Linked DNA regions of Homo sapiens. The protein of the gene in region 4 purifies or fractionates together with the protein of the main gene of each other region. This does not show direct contact. Each region holds a gene or a part of one and is shown on either strand. Other genes may lie near its edges.

Region 1 (4,348 bases), on a different chromosome or scaffold from region 4:
ATGAGTACGCAGAAGGTATGGGCACCCCAGTTTGCAAACCATGCCTTCATTCCTCATCTTTGATATACCCAGTGTGGAAGGAAGTCTCCTGTAGCATTTCAGTGTCCACTGAGCTTCAACCCACACCAATCATTTCTTACCAGCCCAGAAAATCCTGTTAGAGAAGATCCAACAAGGACATTAAATACAGAATCTCTTGTGCACTTATTCTTAACTGACTGTACTAGGTCCATGCCCCATCGCACTGAAAGACTAAAGTTTCAGAAGCTACTGAGAGCCAGGAATTTCAGAGCCCAGAGATGCCTGTAGGAAAGTTTTTAGAAGAGGGATGTTGGCAGAGGCCAGTTTCCTCATGATTGTCGATAACATTCTATTTCTAACTTGAATGATTTTCAGTATCCCCTTTTCATTGTTAAGATTTTTAATTTACCTTATTGCTAGCAGCGATACAAGAAATACATTTTTTTTTCTTTTTAATAGAGACTGAGTCTCACTGGTCTCAAACTCCTGGGCTCAAGCAATCCTCCCTCCTCAGCCTCCCAAAGTGCTGGCATGAGCCTCCAACCCTGGCCCCTTTCTCTTTTGGAGATAGGATCTCACTCTGTCACCAAGGCTGGAGTGCAGTGGCACAATCATGGCTCACTGCAGCCTTGACTTCCTGGGCTCAGGTGATCCTCTCATCTCAGCCTCTCAAATAGCTGGGACTACATGGGTGCACTACCACGCCCAGCTAATACTTTCTGTATTTTTTCTAGAGATGGGGTTTCGCCATGTTGCCTGGGCTGGTCTCGAACTTCCAGACTCAAGCAATCCACACACCTTGGCCTCCCAAAGTGTTAAGATTACAGGCGTGAGCCACCGTGCCCGGTCAAGAAATACATTTCCTTAGTCAGGGTGCTGGCTGGATAGTTTCATATGCCACTGAGAGAATTTAGGAGCATTTGCCTCTGACATTTGTGTACATTCTTTCATGTCATAGATTATGGGGGAGCTTCAAATGGTTTAAAGGGAGTTTTCCTGGATACTTCAGGTTAAACAGAGAAAGTATCGGGGAAAACTAGGTATACCAGAAAGGGAGACTCTGAGAGAGAAAAAGACAGGCCCCAGGGAAGAAATGAACCACAGAACCACAGTGAAGTTTCAGGTCTCTGGGAGAAACACTGGCTATCGTAACAACAAAACAATATCAAAAGGACAATTCATGAAGACATCAAGAAGTACTTGTTCTGTTGGCCGGGCACGGTGGCTCATGCCTGTAATCCCAGCACTTTGGGAGGCTGAGGCGGGCAGATCACGAGGTCAGGAGATCAAGACCATCCTGGCTAACACGGTGAAACCCCATCTCCATTAAAAATACAAAAAAATTAGCTGGGCATGGTGGCGGGAGCCTGTAGTCCCAGCTACTCAGGAGGCTGAGGCAGGAGAATGGCGTGAACCCGGGAGGCAGCGCTTGCAGTGAGCAGAGATCGTGCCACTGCACTCCAGCCTGGGAGACAGAGTAAGACTCCGTCTCAAAAAAAAAAAAATCAAAAAAAGGACTTATTCTGGGGATTATTAAAGGAGTTTTCTCTCTGTGTGTGTGTGTGTGTGTGTGTGTGTGTGTGTGTGTGTGTGTGTGTGTTGGAAAGGGGAGTAATTTTATCATTATGTCTTAAAATGAAATAATTCACGGGACCCAAAAGGGCAGACATTGACAACACCGTTCAGCAAATACACAGTGTGCTGCTTCCTTACAGCTGTTGTTGGCAAAATGCCACACAAAAGTTATCAGCAGCTGACAATACTCACCACAAACAAACAAACAAACAAAACGAGTGATAGAAACTCGGTAGTAACAATCCTGGTGAGGAGTAAATACAAGTCTCACTGGTGTTTTTGGGAGACCTGTGGGAAGGGCCAGTGGAGGAGAGCCCTCTTGGGACAACTGAACACCACAAAGGGTCATTTCTCCCCTGATCCCAAAGCCCTCGATCTTACACTAACTGCTGGCCAGCAGCCTAGACCAAGTCTCCGAGGAGGAAAGCACTCATTAGTGTAATAGACCGCTTCACCCTCAAACTGGAACTTAAATTGCCAAAATCATTACATGCTTATTACAATTCATTCAAGCTTCAGAACATAAAATTGATACAGAAGGGGAAGGGGGCGTGGCAGGACCTACAGGTTCATAGTTCGGTTTTTCCACCCTCACCCTCAACAACTCCCTGAGATTAAAATGAACAAAGGAATTTTTTTTCTTTTTTCTTTTTTTTTTTTTTTTTTAGGAGAAGGGTGTACTCCTACTATTTCAAACTTAAATATCTTCTGAATAAGAAATGGCTTTCCAGTTCTGTTTGGTAAATTCTCTCAAGTCAGATTTTAAATCGTACACCCAAAAAAAATCCTTGATTTTTTTTTAGCATAAATCTATCCTACTTTACATAAATAACATACATTATGAGAACGGAATTTGCAACACAAAAAGACGGTTATTCATGTTTCCAAAGGGATCAACATTTGAGTTTCTTTCAATGGGTGGCTCTACTGTTTTGTTCACAATGTGGTTTTGTGTCACCTCAACTTTTCAGAAGCACATGGACTACATACATCAAAGTCCACTTGTGCTTTTATTAAAAGTACCCCCAAAGCATTTCAAATGTCACTGTATACATCCCCACAGCTATCTTGTTAAAGGCAAAATACATACATACATACATACATACATACATACATACATACATAAACAACATAATCCTCCTTCATTGCCAACCATTCAACAGTACATTCTGCCCCATAAGCCTTTTTAAACACACTGGGCTCAGCTCGTGGGATTCCTGAAGTGCAATAGCCCTAACACTGTTTTCCAAGGTAGAGATTTCTAAAAGGTGAGATGGAGTACACAGTTGCTTCAAACAGTGTGATCCAGATACAAACACAGTCCCAACATGCACCAGATATGAAATCTCTGTGCCAGAAACCAGGGTCACTGGCACCATGGAATCAAGAACCATTTTCTGTGTGTAAAGTACTAGGTGCCTAGATCTGCCAGTAAGCATCTACCAGTTTCCTAGCATAAAAGTCAGCAAAAGTCAGGAATGAAGCAGCAGGAAAGACAGGGAGTTACACAGTGAGCCTCAACAAAGGTCTCAGAGCAGCTGGGCACTAGCGAGGGCCGCCAATTCTTTCTTACAACTTGAAGGTAATAACAGAGGAGAGGTGATGGTTACTGAGCATTTACAATGGCAAAGCTGTTTGAAGCGCCTTCACACGCATTCACTTATGGTACCTGTTAAACTCCGGGACAGTGATTATGAAACTTTTTGGATGCCTTTACACTCTTTTTATTTATTTATTTATTTATTTATTTATTTATTTATTTATTTGAGATGGAGTTTTGTTCTTGTTGCCCAGGCTGGAGTGCAATGGCACGATCTTGGCTCACCACAACCTCCACCTCACGGGTTCAAGCGATTCTCCTGCCTCAGCCTCCCAAGTAGCTGGGATTATAGGCATGCGCCACCACACCCAGCTAATTTTGTATTTTTAGTAGAGACAGTGTTTCTCCATGTTGATCAGGCTGGTCTCAAATTCCTGACTTCAGGTGATCCGCCTGCCAATCCCAAAGACCTTTTTGTTTATGTGGGTTATATCCACTGATATTTATTGTATTTGAAATTAAAATGAAAAAATAGATATTAACATATTTTAAAATAATACGACTTGGGCAACATAGGTAGGCTTCATTTCTACAAAAAGTAAAAAATTCCACTGGGCCCAATTGTTCATGCCTATAATCTCAGCACTTTGGGAGGACAAGGTGGGAATATTACATGAGTTCAGGAGTTCAAGACCAGCCTAGGCAACAAAGTAAGACCTCATTTATACAAAAATCAAAAAATTACCTGGGCATGATGGCACACACCTGTGGTCCCAGCTACATGGAAGGCTGAGGTAGGAGGATGCCTTGAGTCCACTGGGTTGAGGCTGCAGTAAGCCATGTTCATGCTACTGCACTCTACTCTGGGTGATAGAACAAGCCTTGTCTCAAAATAAATAAATAAATAAATAGCTGGGCATGGTGGGACATGCCTACAGTCCCAGCTACTCAAGAAGCTGAGGTAGGAGGGTTGCTGGAGCCTAGGAGGTTGAGGCTGCTGTGAGCTGTGATCACACCACTGCACTCAGCTTGGGCGACACAGAGACCCTGTCTCAAAAATAAATAAATAAAAAGAAAAAACAATAGTAAACCTATTACACATTAAACATAAATAACATTTTTATGACCAATAACAATATTTTTCCAAAGCAAAAAAAAAATTAGTGAAAAGCATGGCACTGTTTTACAATTTTGCAAATCTCCTTAATGTCT
Region 2 (3,710 bases), on a different chromosome or scaffold from region 4:
CATCCCCAGAAGCCCCATCCAGGAGATCTAGCAGATCCAGGAGCTGTGAGGCCTGGCAGAAGGGACAGAAGGGGCAGGGCTGGGTATGAAGCTCAGCCCGTCTTCCTACCCCAGAGTTTCTAGCCTTCTCACCTGGGGCTCTGTGGGCACTGGGGCTGCTTCTGAAAGCTGGGCTGCTTCTTTGCTTTCCTTTGCTTCCTCATCAGCCTGAGGGCCATCTCGCTCCACAAGAGGCATTTTTTCCAGGATGGCAGCCCTGAGAGGATGGAATGCAAGTGTGCCTCTGTGTGGTCTCTGGGCCTTTCACAAGAGGCATCTAGGATGAGGACTAGGAATATGGAGCCCTGGGCACATGGTGGCTCAGAAGTACCCTTCTGATTTCCTAAAATGACATGTTGTTGCTGATTTTCAGATGAACAAGGAGGGTTGGAAGCCAGCTTAGCTTCAATTAACAGTGGGTGGGAAGCTCTCACCGTGGATATGGAAGAACACAGGTGAGGATGAGGCCCTTGTACCTAGAAAAGGGCATTTGGGAGAGGGCAGGGGTTTGGGTCCCATGCTGCAGCACAGTGCTGGACACACCTCATGTGGTCGTATTTCCGGAAGAGTGTGTCATACTCCACAGCCCGCTGCTGCAGCTCCACGTCCAAGCAGCTCCCGTAGATGGACACCACCTGGCGGATGCGGCTGGGCCAGTGTAGTATGTAAGTGGCTATGGCAGTGTGCCACTGCAGGATGTGGCAAGAAGGAAAGGCCCACGGAGCAGGGAAATACCCAGATTTGGCTCAAAAACAAGAACCTAAGGGCTAGGGGGTAGGGAGGGCTGGGCATGTATGCCTGGAAAGAAACTCAAAAATGGGTGGACCCAGTGACAGGCCATCTCTCAAGGGGCTGGGACCCCTTCTTACTTGTTGTCCCCACAGAGGCGAGTGCTGAGCTTCATGAGGGCTGTGAGGGCATATCCTCGAGTGGCTGGCAGGGACATGTGGGACTGCAGCACCTTTTCCAGCAATGCCAGCACTTCCTCTTCGTCCACCTTCAGACATGGATACAGTTAGTGGCCCTGGTGCAAGTCCTGTCCCCCTGACAAGTCCCTCCTCAGTGTACCCCCAATGAGGTCTCACCTGAAGGGGCTCAATCTCCTCGCAGTTCCCTGCCAGCAGGAGGTCCCCATACTCCCCAATGCACCAGGCTGCCACCTGCACCAGTGGTTGCTACATGGGATAAGAAACTGCTGGGCTGGCCAGGCATGGTGGCTCAAGCCTGTAATCCCAGCGCATTGGGAGGCTGAGGCGGGAGGATTGCTTGAGACCAGGAGTTCAAGACCAGCCTGGGCAACAAAGCGAGACCCCCCCCATCTCTATTTTAAAAAAAAAAAGAGAGAGAGAGAAAGAAAGAAACACTGCTGGGCCAGTGTCTGAGGTCCCCTCCTCACTTCCAGACCTGGCAATATCCCTTTAGGCAGTGCAGAGATGGTGGGGGGTTGGAGGAGTGGGGAAAGGGAAGTTTGTTACCTGGCTCCCACTGCCCTCTGGTGGCCAAGCATCAGAACTACATGGCCTAACCAAACAGGATGGAAATGTGAGAGGGTCCCTCCCTTGTGGAAGGGGTGGATGATGCTTTCTGCCCACCCTATTTAATTAAGATGGAAAAGGGGGCTATAGATACTGGCTGGCATCTGTTAATTCATTCAGCATTCAAGGTAATAATAAAACCTCATAAACACAAGAGCTTTAATCTCAAGGCAGCTCTAAGAGGCAGTCAGGGTACATGGAGCATAAGGGAAGTTAGTCATCTGTAGTTACATAACCAGGAGGTACCAGAGTCAGGACAAAAGCCCAGATGTTCTTAAAAACAGGGCTCTGTGCTCAGATGTCTTCTGCACTGTGTAAGCAGCTGTGACCTTGAGAGAAAAATTGGAATCTAGTAGGGAGGAGGTGGCCCAGGATGGGCAAGGGAGTGGTTGGGCAGCCCTGGGCCTAGGTAGGTGGGAATGGTACCTGGGAAATGTCTTCTGCCAGGGCATTGTAGAGGCGGCGCACAGAGTAGGCATGTAGCTCCTGGGCCCCCCCAATCAGCTGGGTCAGGTTGGCCACTGCATCATCCCGCACATGGGTGCCCGCCTGGAAGGTGTGGGCATGGCCAAGTCAGTGTGGTGAATCTTGACCACTTCTGCCCAGCTCTCTGACTGGCCCCTGCCTCACCGTTGTCAGCACATGCAGGATGGTGTCTATGTGCCAGCGTTTGGTTGGAGCAAACCTAGGGGATATATGGCTCATCAGTCCTGGTACTGACGCTCCCCAGATTCTACCCTCTTCGACTCCTGGGCACCTCACCTCTCTGCAGCCAGCAGGATGCCTGAGGCACAGTCAGCCCGTAGGTCAGGAGGGCAGGACTCCAGAAAGGCCTGCAGCTCTTGCATCATGGCTCGCACATTGGAGCTATTTACCAGAGCCAGGCTTAGTTCCAGGGCTCTCCTGGCAGGAGAAAGAGGTTTCCATGCAGGTAGCCCAGGTCATCCTGGTCCATGCCTCAGGCCCTCTGCTTCCCCAGGGACCTGTCCCCCTTAGTCCCCTTACTCCAGCTGCTCTAAACTGGCTCGAGTCTTGGCCACAGGGCACTGGGAACCTCTGCCCTGCCCTCCTGTCCCCTCTATCACTGCTCACCGGCTGAGGGAGGCATCAGTTTCCCGTAGACATTCCACCACAGTGGGCCGATGCCGCTGCACAGCACTGTGATCAGACTGCACCAGTCGAAGCAGTGATGTCAGGGCTACATACCTGGTCAGGATGGGGGAGGTTCTATCATACCATGGCCATCAGCCCCCACTCCCCGTCCTGTCCTGGGTATAGGGATAAGATAAGAGAGAAATGGATCAGGAGGCTCTGGAGGAAGGAGGGCAGAGGGCCAGGGGATCAGTGGCACAGCCTAGGTAGACAGTTGGGACTATTACCTAATGTTCCTGTCACTGTTGAGTAGGAAGCGACCAAGAATGTTGACAGCTAGAACCTATGAGAGGCAGAAGTTGGGGTCAGTCGGAAAGGAGCAACCTGCTCAGCCATTGAGGACTGGGAACACATTGGCGCAAGATGATGGGGCTAGGAGGGAGAAACCAGCAAGCAGGACCTGTGTGGGTGAGGTGGTGGGCGGGGCCGTAGTGGGAGAGGCATAAGGGGTGATACCCGTAGGCCAGCTGCAGAGCGGATATCCATGATGGTGAGTACTGTCTCAAACAGGACCGCATTTCCGGCATTTCGGCTGGTGTCCGTGTTAGTGGCCACCTGAGTGGATGAGAGAGGAGATGTATCTGCTCAAGGCCCTCCTCAGGTCTCCTTTTTTTGATACAGGGTCTCACTCTGTCGCCCAAAGCTCACTGCAGCCTTGACCTCCCAGGCTCTGATGATCCTCCTGCCTCAGCCTCCTGAGTGGCTGGGACTACAGGCACATGCCAACAAGCCCAGGTAATCCTCAGGATTCTTGAAGGACTCCAACATGTTATCTGTCCATCCTTCAACCATCCAACAAAGTTCCCTGAGGCTCTACTATGTGCCAGGGCCAGCCTGGGCACTGGGGCAATAGCACTAAGACAGACTGTGTCCCTTCTTCATGGAGTTCACTGTCTAGAGGAGATGGAGAGGCAATTACACGGCCACTGCACAGTGACGAGTCATGTGAGGGGCACCCAGGGCTGATGGGGTCTCCAAGCAACA
Region 3 (4,348 bases), on a different chromosome or scaffold from region 4:
AGTTACTAACTTACTACCAACTTAATCTATCTTTTTTTTTTTTTAAATTGAGACAAGATCTCACTCTGTCACCCAAGCTGGAGTGCTGTGGTACAATCATGGCTCACTGCTGCCTTGACTTCCTGAGCTCACACAATCCTACCACCTCAGTCTCTCGAGTAGCTGGGATTACAGGTGCATGCTATTACACCTCTAATATTTTAATTTTTTTGTAGAGACAGTGTCTCACTTTGTTGCCCAGGCTGGTTGTGAACTACTTGCCTCAAGTGATCCTCCTGCCTTGGCCTCCTGAAGTGCTGGAATTAGAGGTGGGAGCCACCACACCTGGCCTCAACTTAACCTACGTAAACCTCATAGGATTACTGTGAAAAGTAAATGAGACAATGCATATAAAGAGCTTGGCACCATCCCTGGCACACAGAGGAAATTAGATAAACTGCAGCTATTATTATATTGCCAATCTGGTTTTTTGTTTTGAATGGTGAAATTACAAGCTGTAAAGCAAGGACAATATTCCTTTAGAAAACTGGGAATAAAAGTCAGTAAAACAAATGGTAGAAAAATCTCATGGGGGACAGGACAAGAGGAATGTATTCATTTTTAAATTAGAAGAGCTAATTTAGCTTTCTTGCTCTTTAGATGATAGGAGAATGAGAGGCTAGAATAAGAAGGTGAGAGGAGAAGAATTCCAGTAGCAGCAATTTTAGAAGAATTTGGCAAATGGGTCCACATTGCAAACTAAGTGCTATAGGAAAACAGAGTATCCAGCAGCCCAGGGAAACGAAAAATATTCAGTCACGAAGGTATCTGTCCAGTTTTTATTCAATGGAAAACACCAGTTCTTAGCCAAGCAGCTCTTTACTGAATACAAAAAAGAAGCAACTTTCAATAATACAAAACCTATTATCTTTAAAATAATCAATTACATTTTAAAGGAAATATTCTTAATCTAATAGTACTAGAAGACAAATTTTTTGCTTCAAATGCTTCTCAGTTAACTGGTCCTTTATAGGTTCAGTTTACCTACAGACATGAAACTGTGGTCTCAAAAACGAAGTCTCAAAATACAAATTAAAAAGCAAAACCAAAAACCTGCAAAACCATTCCTAACTATTGAAATTGGGTAATGGATGCATGGAAGCTTGTTAAAATATTTCATTACATTATTCTCCTTTGAGTATTTCTAAATATCCACAAGATGAAGATTTTTTTTTTTTTTTTTGAGACGGAGTCTCGCTCTGTCACCCAGGCTGGAGTGCAGTGGCGCGATCTCGGCTCACTGCAAGCTCCGCCTCCCGGGTTCACGCCATTCTCCTGCCTCAGCCTCCTGAGTAGCTGGGACTATAGGCACCCACCACCGCGCCTGGCTAATTTTTTGTATTTTTAGTAGAGACGAGTTTTCACCGTGTTAGCCAGGATGGTCTCGATCTCCTGACCTCGTGATCCGCCCACCTCAGCCTCCCAAAGTGCTGGGATTACAGGCGTGAGCCACCGCGCCCAGCCATGAAGATTTTTTTAAAGCCTCCAGATAAAACAGCAACTAGCTATAGGACCTTAAACATGTTAATTTTTCTAAGTCCCAGTGTCCTCATTTTTAAAATAGGGATATCAACACCTACTTTGCAAAATTGATGTGAAGATTAGAAACAATGAATGTAAAGCACACACCAGTACCTGGATCAGGCATGTGGTTATTAAACAGTGATTGCTGTAGGTATGTACATTCTCAAGAGAGCTTGACATTTAGTGAGAATTTGTACTTTGCAGAATTAACATTCCAGATGTGTCTATGAAATAACATAAACGATTTTATTTTTCTAAAATTCTTTTAATTTTCATTATTTCAATAATATACCAAACATTTCAGAAAAGTTTTATGTAAGATTGGCTTATAAATTTCCAATCATTTTTAGTATCCTCAATAGGATAAGATTTAGTCTCTTGAAAGATGAACATCACTTTTGGACTCCGTTCAGTCATTCCAGTTAATTCCAGTGGGTAATCAAACTATGAAATACCAGTCTGAACCAAAAACTAAATGAATTGGGATGAGACTGAAATTCTTATATGGTCCATTAGAAGTAATCTAAATGAGGGTTCTTTCATCACTATGTATTTCAAGAAACTTGCTTAGGACACTTATTATCCATTTAACTTAACAGTTTTTAATTCTCCCACTTACCGATGTAATACTGCTATTGTTGGCTGCACTGAAAGGGTCAGTGCTTGAAGTGGCAAAAGGATCAGTAGATTGCCTGAAGAAACAGTCTGATGCAAATGGATCTGAACCTTTGAAAGGATCACCACCAAATGGATCTAAAAAAATAAGGCACGAATATAAGAGACAAAAAAAAATTATTGCACTAAATTTCCCATCACTTGAAGGTATGATCAGTGCCTTAATTAAAAGACAGTCTGGGGCCAGGTGCAGTGGCTCACGTCTGCATTCCCACCACTTTGGGAGGCTGAGACAGGCAGATCACTTGAGGTCAGGAGTTCAAGACCAGCCTGCCCAACATGTCAAAACCTCCTCTCTACTAAAAAACACAAAAATTAGCCAGGCATGGTGGTGCGCACCTATAGTCCCAGCTACTCGGGAGGCTGAGGTGGGAGACTCACTTGAACCTGTGAGGCAGAGGCTGCAGTGAGCAAAGATCTGCCACTGCACTCCAGCCTGGGTGACAGTGAGACCCTGTCTCAAAAACAAACAAACAAAAAGACAGTTTGGGCCAGGTGCAGTGGCTCACACCTGTAATTCCAGCACTTTGGGAGGTTGAGGTAGACGGATGACTTGAGCTCAGGAGTTTAAGACCGGCCTGGCTAACACAGTGAAACCCTGTCTCTACTAAAAATACAAAAATTAGCCAGGCGTGGTGGTGCGCGCCCGTAATCCTGGCTATTCGGGAGGCTGAGGCATGAGAATAATAGCTTGAGCATGGGAGGCGGAGGTTGCAGTGAGTCAAGACCGCACTACTTGTACTCTAGCCTGGGCAACAGAGCAAGACTGTCTCAAAAAAAAAATCCAAAAAGACAGTTTGAAATACTGTAGAATCTAAGCTGAGTACTTTTTATTTCACAGACTCCTTTGCAATTTTGATAAAAGATACAGAACCTTCCACCTAATAAACTTATTTTTAAAATTAACATATAATTTCAAGGGATCCAATTTTAAGTCCCCTTATTCTACGCTACCGTAACTAAAGAAAACACAATAAAAACTTCTAAATGTATTTTTCTCTCTGAGCTCAAAGCTAACAGCCAATAGTTTAGAACAGGTTTGGGATGCAAAACTAAATGGTAAACAAGATTTGCATTATTCTAATGAAAATTCCCAGAAAAAGAATATCTCAAAAAGCCTGATGTTTTAGTAATTCTTCAAGATTCTCTGCCTCTAATCACACGTGTGGGCTATAATCTTAGGAAAACAAAATTACATTCTAAACCCTGAAGCAGTATAGATCATTATGCTCACCAAACCTTTAGTTAGTAAGGAGGAATCAGAATAAATATTTAAAGCACCAAAGTCTAAACACTAATGTCATTTTTAAAAAAGTAAAGCTATCGGGCACAGTCGCTCACACCTGTCTGTAATCGCAGCACTTTGGGAGGCTGAGGCAGGAGGACTGCTTGAGCCCAGGAGTTCGAGACCAACCTCGGCAACACAGTGAGACCCTGTCTCTACAAAAAATAAAAAAAAATCAGTCAAGTATGCTGGCATGAGCCTGTAGACCTAGGTACTCAGGAGGCTGAGGCAGGAGGATTGCTTGAGCCCAGGAAGTCAAGGCTGCAGTGAGCCATGATCACACCACTGCATTCCAGCCTGGGTGACAGAATAAGACCCTGTCTCAAAAACAAAAAACACCAAAAAAAAAAAAAAAAAAAAAAAGAAGAAGTAAAAGTAAAGCAACAATTCATTAAGCAAAATCAAAAGAATTTACTACTCTCTTTCTGAAAATGCCAGGCACATAGAGCATCTTACTGGGGCTTCAGTTTCAGACCTAAATAACATAAGCTTATTATTAAGCAGAAATGAATGAAAGCTAAGATGAAACTCAATAAGATACTGACCGATTTTTCCAAAAGGATCATCCTTGAAAGGATCACCTGTGATAAAATAAACACAAAGAAATCCAAATAACAATATTTACTGTGGTGACACCACTACTTAAAGAGTAACTTTCAAACAAAAGCAAAGCAAAGTTTATTTCAATAACTTCACTTCACAGTAGATAAAATAAGGAATGTCATTGACCTTATGAAATATACAGCCAACTATACTTACCTTGATCACAAGTTGAGGTTACGGATGGAGGGGAAGACATTACAGCAAAAATTTTACTAACAAAAT
Region 4 (4,267 bases):
GTGGCTCCTAGTTGCCCTCGGGCTAAAACTCACATTCCTTAGCATGGCATTCAAGGCCCTTTGGACTCTGACCCCTGCCTAGCTCTCTTTTGTCATCTCTCCTGCTCCACACTCACCTTTTCCCAAGCTCCAGTCAACCTCAGCTACTTGCTACTTCTGCAAGCACCAACTCTTTTTCTTTTTTCGAGACAGGATCTTGGCTTGTTACCCAGACTGTAGTACAGTGGAGCTGTCATAGCTCACTGCAGGCTCCAACTCCTGGGCTTGAACGATCCTCCTGCCTCAGCCTCCCAAGTAGCTAGTACTACAGATGGGTGCCACTGTGCCTGGCAAATTGTTTTTATTTTTTGTAGAGATGGAGTCTTGCTATATTGCTCAGGCTGGTCTCAAACCCCTGGCCTCAAGCAGTCCTTCTGTCTGGGCCTCCCAAAGTGCTGGGATTACAGGCGTGAGCCACCACACCTGGCCTCCCAACTCTTTATACCTCTCTGTCTTTGCTTTGCACTCTTCCCTCTGCCTGAACACCATTTCCTGCTCTCCCAACCTTACCTGCCTAGCTGGAGTGCTACTTGGTTCTTCCCATCTGATCATCACCCCTAGGTCTGAGCTAGATGCCCCTCCTTGATGCCCTCTGGCAAGGGTCACAGTGGGTTGTGATTGTTTATTTGGCTCTCTTCTAAGTAAATAGCTCTTTTTTTTTTTCCAGACAGAGTCTCGCTTTTTCGCCCATGCTGGAGTGCAGTGGCGCGATCTTGGCTCACTGCAACCTCCGCCTCCCGGGTTCAAGCAATTCTCATGCCTTAGCCTCCAGAGTAGCTGGGATTACAGGCACCTGCCACCATGTTTGGCTAATTTTTGTATTTTTAGTAGAGATGGGGTTTCACCATGTTAGCCAGGCTGGTCTCGAACTCCTGACCTCAAGTGACCCGCCTGCCTCGGCCTCCCAAAGTGCTGGGATTACAGGTTTGAGCCACCGTGCCTGGCCAGTAAATAGCTTTTAATCCTTGACGAAGACCTGCCTTAACTACGTCTCCAGCACCTAGTGAGGTGTCTGGTACATAGTTGGTGCTCAGCAGGTGTTGAATGAGTGAATGAATGAATATTGCATTGAATTGTTAGGATTCCTTGACTCCTAAGGGGTTCAAAGCACTTTCTAGATTATCTCCTGTCCATCCTCATGTCACCTCATAGAGACAGGGAGAAATCTGATCAGTGCTGAGACTACTTTCAAACTACAGTTGGTACCACCAGACAGCCATCAGGGTGTTTCAGGGCTTCCAGAGACCTGGGAATCTGGTACGGAGCAGGGAAGTGGTAAACTCTCTCTCTCTCGGTAGTAGTAATAGTGGCTAACATTTATCAGGCATTTTGTGGGCCGGGCACTGCTAAGGGCTAGGTATGTATTGACTTGTTTTAGCCTCACAAACCCTTCAGGCATGTAACATTGTAGTTCCCATTTTACAGTTGTGCTGCAGTTGTGCCTGTTTGCTTTGTAGAACCTGGGAGAGCCCCTGTCCTACCTGCAATGGCTGCCTTCACCTACCCACTCCTTGTGTTTAGATTGTCCCCTCTTATATAGTGGAGCTGAGGAAGGACTTGGCTATGGTTCTACACTCCTACACCTCATGCTGTCTGGGTCTTTAGCCTTGGACTTGACCTCTGACCTCTGTCAGGAAGGGAGGCCTCTCCTAGTTGTGGTATGAGTGTGGCCTAACTCTGGGTTGACCCCACAAGGCCCAGAATTCATCAGTTACTGGGATGCCTTAGTCACTGATCCCCCAGGTTACCACCAATTACCACAGTCTACCCTGTGGACTCGGAGCTGGAAGGTGGTAGGTTTGAAAGTCAGGTCTCAAAAGCTTTTTTTTTTTTTTTTTTTTGAGACGGAGTCTGGAGTGCAGTGGCGTGATCTCGGCTCACTGCAAGCTCTGCCTCCCAGGTTCACGCCATTCTCCTGCTTCAGCCTCCTGAGTAGCTGGGATTACAGGCGCCCGCCACCACGCCCGGCTAATTTTTCTATTTTTAATAAAGACGGGGTTTCACCGTGTTAGCCAGGATGGTCTCGATCTCCTGACCTTGTGATCCGCCCACCTCAGCCTCCCAAAGTGCTGGGATTACAGGCGTGAGCCACCGCACCCGGCCCAGGTCTCAAAAGCTTTAAAACTGAACCTTCAGTGTTCATTTTTGGCATTTCAGTAGCTGAGTTCCATAGAGGAATAGACTTGGGTGGTAGATACTTTTTACCACACCCTCCTTACATTTAGGATCTTAAGCCTATTGGGAGCAGAATAACACAATTTCAGTAGAGCCAGCCTTGGGTCTGCTGCTGTGGTGGTCTTCATTGCCCGATCTCCGAGTATTGGGTGGCTGGCTGCTGGGACACTGAGGACAGAGACTTTCTAAGTCCAGTATTCATTCAGTATTTATCGAGGCCTGCTAATGCCTGGTGCTGGCCTATGCTGATAGGTCAACAGGCCAGATATGGCTTCAGGCTTCAGATAAGCCCTCTAGTTGCTTACTTCATTTTAATGGGAGAGAGAGACAAAGAAGTAGAGAAAAAAATGCAATGATTAGAAAAACCAATAAGCCACAAGGGAAACAAAAGGCATAGCAGCCAGAACTTATTAAAATATAGGTCAGATGTCAGGACTCCTCTGCTCAAAACCCTCCAGTGGCTCCAGCTCACTCAGTAAAAGCCAGAGACCTCACGCTTGATCATAAGGCCCCCTGCATTCTCCTGTGACTTCCTGACCCACTGTTTTCCTCATTGCTCACTCAGCCACATTCACTTCCCTTCTGTTCCTCAGACATGCCAGGCACATACTCACCTTTGCACTGGCGATCTCTTTTGCTTGGCAGGCTCTTTCGCAGACAGTGTCACCTGTCACCTTCTCAAGGAGGCCTTCTATGGCCACCCTAGTTAAATTTTAACTTCCCTTCCTCCCCTCTCCCCTCCCTATCCTCCTTCCCTCCTCTTTTTTGCCTCCATTGTGTTTATCACTATCTAAGATGTTATATATTTTACTCACTTATCTTGCTTACGGTCTCTTTCCCCCATTAGGACATAAACTCCATGTAGGGAAGGATTTTTGTCTGTTTCTTTCACTCCTGCATTCCCAACATGTAGAAGTGTTTCTGGTACACGAAAGATGCTCAGGAAATGTATGAATAAGAACACTGAAGGATGTGGACAGAGAAATACCTTCTTAAGGTTGTACATGCATGGCCAGGTGCCGTGGCTCATGCCTGTAATCCCAGCTACTTGGGAGGCTGAGGTGGGAGGATCATTTGAGGCCAGGAGTTCAAGACCAGCCTGGATAATTTAGCGAGACTCCACAAAAAACTTGAAAAGATTAGCTGGGCATGGCACACGCCTGTAGTCCCAGCTACTCAGGAGGCTGAAGCAGAATTGCTTGAGCCCAGTAGTTTGATGCTGCAGTGAGCTATGATCACACCCCTGCACTCTAGCCTGGGTGACAGAGCAAGACTATCTGTCTCTAGCAACAACAACAAAAAAGATAGTACATGTAGGAAAGGTATTTTTTTTTTGTTTCTTTTTTTAAGCATCAGAGGTATCACGCTGAAGGGAAGTTATCTTTGAAATGAGATCATCTAAGCTGAGATTTGAAGGATAAATTGGAGCAGTTAGGAGAGGATAATCCAAGCAGAAGGATCAGCAAGGGTAGAGATAGTGAAGAGTTGGCTGTTAGAGGAACAAAGAAGGCATGTGGGCCTGGAGGCAAGGACCTGGTACTTATATCCTGTGCCAGAGCCCCCCACCTTCTGCAGCTCTGTCACTCTGAGCTGATACCTATGGGAGCAGGTGAGAGTGACTTGGCCTCACTGAACGTTTCTCCCACTGGAGATGTTGCCACCTGATCTTCTACCCTTGCCATTTCTTCTCTCTCTCATAATTTATTCACTTAACTTCCATTTATTGGCTGTAAATGTGCTAGGGGTCTGGCATGTTCAATTTCAGTATAGTTAGAATAGCTTGACAATCAGAGCAGATGTATCTCTGATCCTGGATAACCCCGTGAATGGAACATGGAGAAGCTGCTCTAGCAGAGGTTGGTTTACAAAACATGAAATTTGCCCAAGAAGAGAGTTGAGCACTGGTCATTCAGCTACTTATTGAACACCTGTTTGCCAGGTACCAGCCTAGGAGTCAGGAATATGATAGTGAACAAAATGGACAAAATCCTTACCCCCATTTACATTAGGGAATTTATAGGGGGAGAAAGAATAGACAACGTAAGTATATTTT
Region 5 (4,348 bases), on a different chromosome or scaffold from region 4:
ATCACGCACCACCACACCTGGCTAATTTTTGTATTTTTAGTAGAGATGGGGTTTTGCTATGTTGGGCAGGCTGGTCTCCAACTCCTGGCCTCAAGTGGTCTACCCAATTCAGCCTCCCAAAGTGCTGGGATTACAGGCATGAGCCACCACACTCGGCCCAAATGTCTGTTTTTATGAAAGCAAGATGTTGCAAATTCCAGCTTAAAATTGTTTTAATAGATTAGTATGCCATATTAATTTAAATGAATAAATTTTCTAAGGTAGTGCTTATGATGGTTCAATTCACTGTTACAAGCCTTGGGGTAAAGTGATAACCAGCAACCTGTGCTTTTGTAAGCAGCCATGGAGAACTCTTTATCACTTAGGCTCTGTCATGTCAGCCCTGGCCAACAGCTTAGAAGACTCTATGCAAGGTTTCAAGCCTTGACATGCAAGCTTCTAGTTGCCCTTTGGGGAAGCAGTGGGAATATTTACCAGCCACTTCTAAGAAACTACTGGAAAGGCAAGGCAAATTTCAGGAGCTTAATGCACTGTTAATATGTCTAGGAAAAAAAGGTGCAAACTTAAAACTTCTGATAAACAAATATAATTCCAGTGATTAAAAAGGAATGAGGCTGGGCATGGTGGCTCACATCTGTAATCCCAGCACTTTGGGAGGCTGAGATGGGCAAATTGCTTGAGCCCAGGAGTTTGAGACCAGCCTGGATAACACAGTGAGACTCTGTCTCTACCAAAATAATAAAAAAAATTAGGCCAGGTGCGATGGCTCACACCTGTAATCCCAGCACTTTGGGAGGCTGAGATGGGTGGATCATGAGGTCAGGAGCTCGAGACCAGCCTGCCCAACGTGGCGAAACCCCGTCTCTACTAAAAATACAAAAATTAGCCGGATGTGGTGGCGGGTGCCTGTAATCCCAGCTACTTGAGAGGCTGAGACAGGAGAATTGCTTGAAGTCGGGAAGTAGAGGTTGCTGTGAGCTGAGATGGCGCCATTGCACTCCAGCCTGGGCAACAAGAGCAAAACTCCGTCTCAAAAAATAAATAAAAATCAAAATAAAGGCCGGGCACAGTGGCTCATGCCTATAATCCCAGCACTTTGGGAGGCTGAGGTGGGCGGATCACCTGAGGTCAGGAGTTCAAGACCAGCCTGACCAACATGGAGAAACCCTGTCTCTACTAAAAATACAAAATTAGCCAGGCATGATGGCGCATGCCTGTAATCCCAGCTACTCGGGAGGCTGAGGCAGGAGAATCACTTGAACCCAGGAGGTGGAGGTTGCAGTAAGCCACGATCGTGCCATTGCACTCCAGCCTGGGCAACAAGAGCAAAACTCCGTCTCAAAAAAAATAATAATTAAAAAAAAAGAAAAAGAAAAAATTAGTCGAGTGTGGTGGTGGTGTGTGTCTGTGGTCCTACTTGGGAGGTGGGAGGATCACTTAAGCCTACAGTAAGCTCTAATTGTGCCACTGCACTCCAGCCTGGGTGACATAATGAGACCCTGTCTCAAAAAACAAACAAACAAACAAAACTAACAATGAGACAAAAGCTTTGCTGTCTCCCCTTTCTGAATCCCCCCTCTAAGCAACCCTCCTCATTTATGGCCCTCCGTGCTTTTAGGTTTTCCCCCATACCCTTCCTATCTTCCTCTAGCTCTAATTCCCAACTCTACCTCCCAACCAAACACAGGCAAAAGTGAAAGCATGTTTTCATCCACACTGTCTACTTATAAAAGAATTAAGCAGATAAAACTGGTTTGTGTATGGGAGGAGTGGAGGACGTATATAAACAAAACACTGCTTTATATAGATACACTGGATTACCCAGAGTCAATTTAATAAATTCAATGGATGATTTTTAGCAGGGTTATCTGTATTTTAGACCATTTTGCTAATTGTGGAATAAAAAAGCTAGAGATGGTACAATAATTGTTGGCATCATTCACAGTGAGAAGAGATATTTGGGAACAGGAAGTCTTTTGTGGTGTTCTCAAAATCACATCACGTAGGCAGCTGCTCCTACACACGGCTCTGAACAAGTCGTCTCACTGGATTTTGCATGACAGTATTAGTTATCATAAGGACAGGTAAGGTTTAAAATGCTTTATGTCCCTAAGATTTTACTACCTTTGACTACTTTTTAAAAATTTTTAAACTTTTTAAAAAAACTTTTGACTACTTATTTAAAGACTGATAGAATTACTCTATGAATCCACATGAGTTTCCATCTAACTTCCCAGTAGGATGACATTAGGCCAGATGTTAAAGCATGAAACAGGAGTACTGAAAGATTCTTAGAATGTGTTTGCATTTGAACGCAGGTCTATTATAAGGACAGAGCTACAGGTCAAGGAAGCTTGCTTATTCTTTCTCCTAGGCCTAGGGCAGAAGTTGTTGAAGAGTGACCTCATCCCCAACCAACAGCATCATCTGGGAACATTTAAGTGCAAATTCTTAAGTACCAACCCCAAACTCACTGAATGAAAAACGCTGGAGATGGGGCCCAGCAATCTATGTTTTAAAACAAGTCCTCCAGGTGATTTTGATACAGTAGAACTATTGGCCTAGGAGATTCAAACAGGCTGCCGGGCCACTATTTGACAACAAAATGGTTTTTAAGTTATTATCTGGAAACTCTTGAACTCCAGATTTTTAAAGTGTAGTGATAGCAAAATATACCCAGTTTGTGGTTTACTTAGGGTCTGAGAAACAGAAGACAAAAGCACAGTTTTGTTACTTCAACTCATTTCAAAGCACCTGTGTCAAACCAATGAAGGACAGCTTACACAATATTCGCTAAAATTTTTGGAGTAATGTGGCCCAGAACCTATGCTAAGTGTGCTTATAATCTTTATCCAATTTAGTATTCACAACCACTTTCTCCATTTATAGAAGTGTATACCAAGACAGAGAATGTTAAGTAACTTGCCCCAAATCCCACAGCTAGTAAGAACCAGAATCAGAACTGAAACCCATATCTGACTCAGAGCCTGAGCTCTTAGCATTTGTTTACACCAATGTCTCAAAGATCTTTAAACAATTTTGGTCAATTTTTAGACCATGGCCACTACTTATCTTCCAGATTAAACGTTGGCAAGAGCTTTACTGACCTGTAACCTTCACGAATGGCTATACTGCCTATTCTGTCTCGACACTTGCTGTACATACAGTTTGAGTATCTCTTTTCTGAAATGCTTGGGACCAGAAGTGTTTCTGATTTTAGATTTTTTTCAGATTTTGGAATATTTGCATTATACTTAACAAGCTGACATCCCAAATCCGAAAAGCCAAAATCCAAAATGCTCCAATGAGTATTTCTGTTGAGTGTCATGTCGGTGCTCAAAAAGTTTAGAATTTTGGAGCATTTCAGATTTTCGGATTTGAAATGCTCAACTTATAGTAAAATCATTGTCATTTAAAAGAGACTTGTCTTTCATGTTAAAATGCTGGGTAATTTACATAAAGAATGAAATTATTCTCTATTTTAAAACAAAACTTCTATCATGCAACAATTTCTAGCGTTGTTCATTCTACCGTAACTTAGTATTTCTGTTTAGTTTTTGTTTTTTGTTTTTTTTTTTTGAGATGGAGTCTTGCTTTGTCACCTAGGCTGCAGTGCAGTGGTGCAATCTTGACTCACTGCAACCTCTGCCTCCTGGGTTCAAGCGATTCTCGTGCCTCAGCCTCCTGAATAACTGGGATTACAAGCACCCGCCACCACAGCCGGCTAATTTTTGTATTTTTAGTAGAGACAGGGTTTCATCATGTTGGCCAGGCTGGTCTCCAACTCCTGACCTCAAGTGATCTGCCCACCTCAACCTCCCAAAGTGCTAGGATTACAGGCGTGAGCCACCGTGCCTGGCCTATTTTTGTTTTATTTTTGAGACGGAGTCTTACTGTCGTCCAGGCTGGAGTGCAGTGGTGCAATCTTGGCTCACTGCAACCTCTGCCTCCGAGTTCAAGCGATTCTCCTGAGTCAGTCTCCCAAGTAGCTGGGATCACAGGCATGCGCCACCACACCTGGCTAACTTTTGCATTTTTAGTAGAGACAGGGTTTCACCATGTTGGCCAGACTGGTCTTGAACTCTTGACCTCAGGTGATCTGCCTACCTCGGCCTCCCAAAGTGCTGGGATTACAGGTGTGAGCCACCATGCCCGGCCAGTATTTCTTTTTTCTTTTTTTTTTGGCCAGAGTCTTGCTCTGTCACCCAGGATGGAGTCAGTGGCACAAATCTCAGCTCACTGCAACCTCTACCTCCTGGGTTCAAGCGATTCTTCTGCCTCAGCCTCCCGAGTAGCTGGGACTACAGGCATGCACCACCACGCCCAGCTAATTTTTTTGTATTTTTAG
Region 6 (3,106 bases), on a different chromosome or scaffold from region 4:
AGTGATGTTCAAGTATAACAGGTTTAGTTATAACTACATCCTAAAGAAGCACAGGGGACACCCAAATAATATTAGGGAAAAAAAACCCCAAATATATATATATATATATATTTGCTTAGTGGTACATATATAATAACCTTTCTTCCTTCCTTAAACCAGAATTGAACCATCCCATAATAGAGCCAAACTTTTATTGAGTGCTGTGTGCCAGGTACTGTGTTAAGCACTTTCACATATCTTGGGAGCTTTATTCTCATAATTCTCACAAGGGAATAACCTGAGCATCAGCTGTGTGGAGTGACCTACACCTTGACCATGATTCTGGGGGATGATGAATGAAAATGCAAAGTATAAATCTATACTCCTTAGGAAAATGCCTCTACTACAACACAAAGGAATCTCTCCATTTCTATCCTATTGAACCCCCAATTGAATCCTGTATCTTTTCTCTGAGCTACAATCTTGAAAGAAGAAAGTCACTGTGCTGTGTTATAAGAATGTAAATATTTTATGCTGTCAGTTGTTTCCTCAGAATTTATAAGTCAAAGGGTCTACATCAGTGTCAGAATCATTTAAAATTATTCAGTGTATTGAAAAGCAAGTAAAACTCTAGGTATTTCATGTTTACATCTGAAGGAGACATTAGTTCATCCTCTACCCCTTTTCTAAATGATGAAACTCATGAGGTCTAGCAGAGACCAAGGACTAATACAATCAAGAAGCATATTGTGTACACCTCAACAGATTTTCATTAAAAAAAATTGTTTGATACAAACCTACTGTAGTTCATGAATTTACTATGTGTAATCATCAACTCTTCACTTTTAAAAGAAAGTATCACTTGAATCTATTTTGTAAAGTTTTTAAACATCTACTTGAGCATTTGCATTAGCAGTATTAATCAACCTGAGAATCAGAAAAAAAAAAAAAGGTGCAAACATATTTGCCTTTGGCACGAGGACAAGTAATTGGTGCAGTCCAGCTCTAAATAATAATGTAATGCTTGGTCTGCCTCTGCTACATTGTGATTCACATATTGCTTCCCTATCCACAAATCTATATTTGATTTAGCATATAAAAGAAGGGAAAAAGCAATAAAAAGACAAATATGTGGTTTAGTTACATATACTTTGCTTCTTTCCAAGTTCAGAACTGTGAAAATAGGCAAATAGCTTATCCCATTGGGGCACTATAAGAGATTCCTAATAAAATTACTCGTAAAATATACTTTGAGATCGAAGAGAGTTAATTTAAAATATAAAAATCAAAGAGAGTGCCAGTTGATGAGTTTCTACTCCTTTCTGTAAATAGCATTAACTGTTCTAGAAACTTCCAAATGTTAATCTGATAGCGCAGCACAATTATATCTTAAAATAGTCATAGACACAGGAAGCACAGATACTATATTCACATTAATTCACATATGTAATCTCTATCATTAAATGATTTCTATAAAACCTCAAGTTTCTAATTAGGATTTGTGGTGTAAAAAAAGGCAAATTGGTAGCTGGGTTCTTTTCAGTAAAGACACAATCAACTAGCAGAATTAAGATGCTAGTCCACCTTATATGCATTTTAGGATCTGGTATATTAGTGCAGAGGTACTTGCAGCAGGATGCATGAATCCTGCCTTTATATAAGGCTTTGTGGGTGTCACCATTCTGTGCACTTTATTAAAACTACTCCACCCCCCAAAACCTAATAAAAATAATTGTTGCTTATGACTTGGGGAATATTTGGTGAAGTTGCTAATAAAGTACATTGTTAAATGCAACATGATTTCACATTGTAAATGTCTTGAAAATTCAGTTTCCGCTACATATTTTCTTCATAAAATAAAATTTTTATACAACCCTTGTCCTCCAATTTTTCCAATAATCTGCTTTATTAGGGCCATCACAATAAAAGTTTGGGGCAAGAAGCCATGCATAAAGTGTTTCTAAAGTAGTGAATGTTTTCTGTTCTGTATCTTTTTTTCTTCTTATAATTTCTTTACAAATGTCAGATATTTCTCTTCATATTTTTGTTCTAGGCTTCTGTGCGACGATAGTCCATTTTTTTAATTTGTTTTAACTGACAAAAATTATATATATTTATCATGTATAACATTGTTTTGGAATATGTAAGTTGTGGAATAGTTAAATTGAGCTAATTACACATTATTTCATATGCTTATCATTAGATATTCCATTTTAATGGCACTTGTTTTTAAAAATGAAACAGAGTTTTAGGCACAATAGTCAGTTACTTCTGGCTCTGCTTTGTGGAGAAAGGTGTATGGACTGAAATCTCTGCACTCTCCAGATAATAACTTTCTAATGCTTTAAGATAACTAGATTGTTTTTAACTGTCTGGAAATTAAAAGAGACCTTAAAAAAAATTCACAAGTGTAACTAGTGTATGTAGAAATAACCCTAATTTTAGGGATATGCACATAAAAATGACATTCTGATATCAAAAATAACAGTTTCACTGTCCCTTCTCAGTGGCTACACACCTAGAAAGGTGCCATGTGCTTTCACTGGAAGTACCACACTTGCATTTCTGTGTTGTGATGTCAGTAGCAGAAACCCTTAGTTAGAGCTTGCAATTTAGCTCCCTTTTCTCCTGAAGAGGAATCAAGTTACTACCCTGTAGAGATACTTCATTCTTCTATTTGGTTTATTTAGAAATCACCTATTCTGACTGATCTTTAAGAATGAATGCTATAAAGAGCTACCAAATTTTCTTTCAAATTCATAAAACTGTTCACACTTTTTTGAAACAGGAGTTAATGCCGAGAATCCATCAGAAGTATCTACTGTTTAGAAGGAAATGGAGCAGCACCAAATGGGTCTAATTCGACTGGTTGGGACTGTTGGGACTGATGTGGAGTGATGCTTTGCACCACAAGTTCTGTAAAGGGCACGGCACCAAAATCATCCATTTTCAATACATCTGCACTATGGAATGACCCATGTAGTGAATTTTGTCTTGGCCGCCCTGGCAGGACAGTATTGTGATCAGCACGGATGTCGCTCAGGCCCTGATGTGGAGGGTGCCATGACAGGTCTGGAGAATGGAAGGGCTTGGCACCGAAGGGGTCCAACAGGCTCTCCTCAGGTTG
Region 7 (4,348 bases), on a different chromosome or scaffold from region 4:
GTGCTGTCCAAAACTGTAAGCACTAGCCACATGTGACTATTAAGCAATCAAAATGTGGCTAGTGCATCTGATGAACTGCTATTTTAGATAATTTATTTTTTCTTTTTCTTTTTTTTTTTTGAGACGGAGACTCACTCTGTCACCCAGGCTGGAGTACAGTGGCAGGATCTTGGCTCACTGCAACCTCTGCCTCCCGGATTCAAGCGATTCTGCTGCCTTAGCCTCCCAAGTAGCTGGAATTACAGGTAGCCGCCACCACGCCCGGCTAATTTTTGTGTGTTTACTAGAGACGAGGTTTCACCATGTTGGCCAGGCTGGTCTCAAACTCCTGACCTCAGGTGATCCATCTGCCTCAGCCTCCCAAAGTGTTGGGATTACAGGCATGAGCCACTGCACCCGGCCTATTTTAGATAATTTAAATAGCCATATGTGGCTAGTGGGCTACTTTATTGAACAGCACAGCCCTGGGCCACTAGTAGATTATCGCTATCTCAAAACATACAGCTCCCCAGTAAGCAGTTATTTTTCTGCTTTTGTGTCTTTGGCCATGTTATTCTCTCTGCCTAGAATGTTCTTCTACCTTGTCCATCTAGCAATAAGTTCTCATTTTTGAAGACACACCTCAAATGTCACCTTTCTTTAGCTTTCCCTGACTACTCCCCAACCCACAAAATTGTTGCCTTGGGTCTGTTCCCCAGCTCTTTTACATGACTCCAGCGCAGCATCTGCAGCTATTTGCTCACATATCTGAAATCCTATGACTGTGAGGTCCTCAAGGCACAGCCATGTCTCATTTATCTCCGCATGATGCCTGGCACATAATGAATGCTCAGTAACATTTACTGAATAAGGGAGTGAATGAACTGACAAACCTTGATCTCCCAATTCATAATGCAGTGTTCTTTCCACCACACCAAAATATGGCTCCATAAAATAGACCGGAGGCAAGTCTCTGCTAGCTCACAGTGCTAGATGCTACTTTAATAGACAATACGTTTCTATTATTATCATTTTTTTCTCTTTCAGATGCGGATGTCACAGTTACCTCATAAGTAGGCTCAGAAGGCATGCATCCTTGAAAGGGTGCAAGATGAAGGTGGTACTAGTCCCCTTTCCGAAGCGTCAACATTCAAATATTGCAAGTTAAAATGACGGCTCTGATGCAGTAATATTTTTTGTGTGTTTTGTTAATATTTATCAAACCTTTCTTGTGTACTCTACATGGCGTTTTAGCTACCAGGGTACAAGTGTATGTCTCCCCTCATACCCTCCCACTCAAAAGTCACGTGAAACTGCTGCTCTCTCTTCATCATTATTTGTTATTAAATGAGCTTTACTTTGTTAGAAAGACTGAAAGAAAGAGTTTGACCATGGCAATTGCTTATTCTGGACTTCATTTCTGAATTCTAGATTTGGCTATATTTAGCAAAGCTACAACCGTCATCATGCCCAAAGCCAGGAAGAAGACACCATTCACAAACCACCCCCTGAAAATCTGCAGTTGCCTCTAAAAAACCAGACTTCCCAGCAGGCAAAGACATCTGAAGTGGGAGGGATCAAATTGGTGTTTGCGTCAAGAGAAGGTCTCAGGTGCTTATAACTAAATCTCTCTGCCTGGCACTCAAGATTCTCCATAAAATTAGTCCTTCCTTTTCTCTCCAATGTACCTTCTGCTCTGGTCAAACACCTTCAATATCTCCCCTGTTCATACCTTTCGGTAACACTGGTCATTTCCCTTCCCTGCCTGCTTTTGCTTAAGCTTCTAGCCTCTTATCAAACCTTCTGGGACCACTCTTTCCCCAGACACTCGCTGCTCCCTTTCCCCACAATTGGCACGGGGCTGAGGCACAGGAGGGGAGCCGTGCATTCTTGGTACCTATTCATCAGTCTTTCAAAAGGCCCAGGGCCACTGAAGAAAGTGAGTAGCAAGCACCTCCAGGGAGCAACTTAAAGAATTTCATTCTACCACTCCGTGTCCTCTGTCCTTCTTTCCTTGATTCTGGGGAGGAAATGTGTACTGATGAAAATGGTAACACTAAACTAGTCAGTATTCTCAAAATTTATCATGCTGTTTCACCACTTTGCCTATACTATTCTCTCAGCCTGAGAGGTCCTGAGTAACCCCCATCTGGAACATCTGCTGGGCAATTTCTATTCCTGTTCAAACTTCATGTCACCTATGAACTCTCACCCCCAGGCTCTTTATCATAACATCTTTTACCATCTAAGGTATGTATGTCAAAGGCCACGCTTAAGTGCTGGACACTTATCTCAGGTGTTGAGCTCTGTTAAGAGTCAGGCCTGTGTCCCATTCATCTTAGGATCTCTGGAACCTAATACAGTGCCTGCCACAAAGAGGCACGTACGTGTATCATATTGATACCACCAACATATTATGTGCCTTTAATGGAATTTTTGGTGATTTCACACACATTTTTAAGCCTTACTAGTTTGCTCTGTAGGTAGGAGAAATTATCAAAGTTTACTGATGTGGACATTTGGTACTTCTCATCAGCCTTGGACCTGGATTCCTTGAATATAAATTAGAAAGCTGTTCTGAGGAGCCATCTAGTCCACCTTATAGTTCCAGAATGTTGTCTTCAACACAGTAATAAATAAACATTTATTGTTTAAAGCTTAGATATAAGTCCTCGTATAGCTAAGGAAGTATGATAAAAGCACAGCTTCTCAATCCTTCTTTGAACATTGCTCCAATTTTCCCATTGAGCTCATTCTGGAAGCTTAAACCAAATCTTCCCTTGATATCATATGCCCATTAACTTAGACATGATTTAGCTTCTCATCATGGCATCTTTGCTGAGAAAGCTAGAAAGAAAATATTCTCCCTGGCACCCAGCCTAGAAATAGCCATATTCCTCTAAACTCATAACTTAAAGCCTTCACTTCCCCCAAACAGCCCCTGCTGGACTAGTTAGTGAAACCAGGCCAGGAAGGCTGATGCTACCAGGGGAGGTATGGCAGTGCGACATCTTTTTGTCTTACCCAGCACCTGCTCCTTGGGGTTCTTGCAATTCCTTATGAAAAAGCACAGACCAATACCCACGCTAGAGAAAAAGAGATCATCAGCGGAATGTGGTGGTAATCTGGTCTGTGTTTTGAAGCCTCTCACACCACTCCTCCCTAAACTGCCTAGCCACCGCTCTGGGCACACAGGGTACAACTCCTGTGGTCCTTAAACAACTCTGGCTAGAACTGTAGATAAGTCAGCACTCGGGGACTCACAGAGAAGAGAGTCCAGGGAAGGAGCATGGCTACCCAAAACGTCTGTTAAGCCTTTAAGGAGCTGGTGAGGACTCTGCAAAGAACATCTGGCTCTGTCCCCTAACAATGGGGGAAAGGAATTGCTTCAGATTGCTGCAGCTCAACTAGCTTTCACATTGCTCCCACTCCCCTTTAACACACACACACACACACACACACACACACACACACACACTCTCTCTCTCTCTCTCTCTCTCTCTCCCCCCCCACATATATACATATGATGTATAACGTTGCTGGTAAGTAATGGCTACCATTTATTGAACACCTGAAAATGTTAATTATATATATTGCCTCATTTAATCTTCATGACCAGCCCATTAAGCAGTGGTTCTCAAACTTGACCTTGCGTCAGAATCTCTCCAGGAACTTATTAAGCCCCACACCCACAGCCTACAGAGTGAGGCCTGAGAATCTCCATTTCCAACAAGCTCGCAGGTGATAAGTATGCCCCACTTTGAGAACCACTGCCACAGGGAAACAGAGATTCAAGAGTGGTTTGGAATGTCTTGCCTACAGTTCCACAGCTAGTAAAGAACAGATCCAGAATTTGAACCTAGATCTGTCTGACTCTACAGACAGTGCTGGTAACCATGCTACTGTATGTGTGAATGTATGCCTCATCTTCCCAAATTCATTGGCAGATCCTTAAAGGCAGATGTCAATCACACTATAGACCTCCCTCATCCATCTCAGAACTTCATAGGGTCTTTGGACTTGGTAGGTGCTACATAAATACTTTGTATACTGGCTCCTACATATCTACATACTTCTAAGAGCCACAAATTCAAACTCAACTTAAGCCAAAGAACACAAAAAGGGCGCATAGCCAGACCCAGTTTTACGTGACATTCTCTCTCGCTACTCTGTCTTTGCCCATGGTGCCACCACACTAACTCCTACTCACTCTTCAGTCACTTCCTTCAGAAATCCTGGGCTCCCTAAAACTGGGGGCCACTGCACCCTAAGTTTATCTCTATGATGGCATTTACCAATCCACTATAACTGGCTATTTTCCATCTCTTAAAGCAGTTGGTAAAAGCTAGCATCTAGTTTAACAGTATAC

The links.
Region 1: the proteins of AP1B1 (region 4) and AP1S3 purify together in Homo sapiens (affinity purification with mass spectrometry; 2 studies listed by BioGRID and IntAct, with this or other methods). This does not show direct contact.
Region 2: the proteins of AP1B1 (region 4) and AP1G2 fractionate together in Homo sapiens (co-fractionation; 3 studies listed by BioGRID and IntAct, with this or other methods). This does not show direct contact.
Region 3: the proteins of AP1B1 (region 4) and EPS15 purify together in Homo sapiens (affinity purification with mass spectrometry; 3 studies listed by BioGRID and IntAct, with this or other methods). This does not show direct contact.
Region 5: the proteins of AP1B1 (region 4) and NUMB purify together in Homo sapiens (co-immunoprecipitation; 2 studies listed by BioGRID and IntAct, with this or other methods). This does not show direct contact.
Region 6: the proteins of AP1B1 (region 4) and BMP2K purify together in Homo sapiens (affinity purification with mass spectrometry; 2 studies listed by BioGRID and IntAct, with this or other methods). This does not show direct contact.
Region 7: the proteins of AP1B1 (region 4) and AAK1 purify together in Homo sapiens (affinity purification with mass spectrometry; 2 studies listed by BioGRID and IntAct, with this or other methods). This does not show direct contact.

What each region holds. Positions count from the first base shown.
Region 1 is NC_000002.12:223,830,564-223,834,911, forward strand, and holds part of AP1S3 (AP-1 complex subunit sigma-3), read right to left. Parts: intron 1-4,348. UniProt on the Homo sapiens protein: Subunit of clathrin-associated adaptor protein complex 1 that plays a role in protein sorting in the late-Golgi/trans-Golgi network (TGN) and/or endosomes.
Region 2 is NC_000014.9:23,561,380-23,565,089, forward strand, and holds part of AP1G2 (AP-1 complex subunit gamma-like 2), read right to left. Parts: intron 3,462-3,710; exon of another isoform or gene 3,348-3,461; intron 3,282-3,347; coding exon 3,183-3,281; intron 3,010-3,182; coding exon 2,954-3,009; intron 2,843-2,953; coding exon of another isoform or gene 2,785-2,842; exon of another isoform or gene 2,781-2,784; coding exon 2,667-2,780; exon of another isoform or gene 2,478-2,666; coding exon 2,337-2,477; intron 2,260-2,336; coding exon 2,205-2,259; intron 2,124-2,204; coding exon 2,001-2,123; intron 1,904-2,000; coding exon of another isoform or gene 1,826-1,903; exon of another isoform or gene 1,720-1,825; intron 1,215-1,719; coding exon 1,125-1,214; intron 1,037-1,124; coding exon 909-1,036; intron 729-908; coding exon of another isoform or gene 713-728; exon of another isoform or gene 698-712; intron 688-697; coding exon 583-687; intron 495-582; exon of another isoform or gene 257-494; coding exon 133-256; exon of another isoform or gene 53-132; coding exon 1-52.
Region 3 is NC_000001.11:51,396,850-51,401,197, forward strand, and holds part of EPS15 (epidermal growth factor receptor substrate 15), read right to left. Parts: intron 4,105-4,348; coding exon 4,069-4,104; intron 2,317-4,068; coding exon 2,183-2,316; intron 1-2,182. UniProt on the Homo sapiens protein: Involved in cell growth regulation. May be involved in the regulation of mitogenic signals and control of cell proliferation. Involved in the internalization of ligand-inducible receptors of the receptor tyrosine kinase (RTK) type, in particular EGFR.
Region 4 is NC_000022.11:29,381,304-29,385,570, reverse strand, and holds part of AP1B1 (AP-1 complex subunit beta-1), read left to right. Parts: intron 1-4,267. UniProt on the Homo sapiens protein: Subunit of clathrin-associated adaptor protein complex 1 that plays a role in protein sorting in the late-Golgi/trans-Golgi network (TGN) and/or endosomes.
Region 5 is NC_000014.9:73,287,520-73,291,867, forward strand, and holds part of NUMB (protein numb homolog), read right to left. Parts: intron 1-4,348. UniProt on the Homo sapiens protein: Regulates clathrin-mediated receptor endocytosis. Plays a role in the process of neurogenesis.
Region 6 is NC_000004.12:78,911,725-78,914,830, reverse strand, and holds part of BMP2K (BMP-2-inducible protein kinase), read right to left. Parts: coding exon 2,798-3,106; 3' UTR 1-2,797. UniProt on the Homo sapiens protein: May be involved in osteoblast differentiation.
Region 7 is NC_000002.12:69,636,598-69,640,945, forward strand, and holds part of AAK1 (AP2-associated protein kinase 1), read right to left. Parts: intron 1-4,348.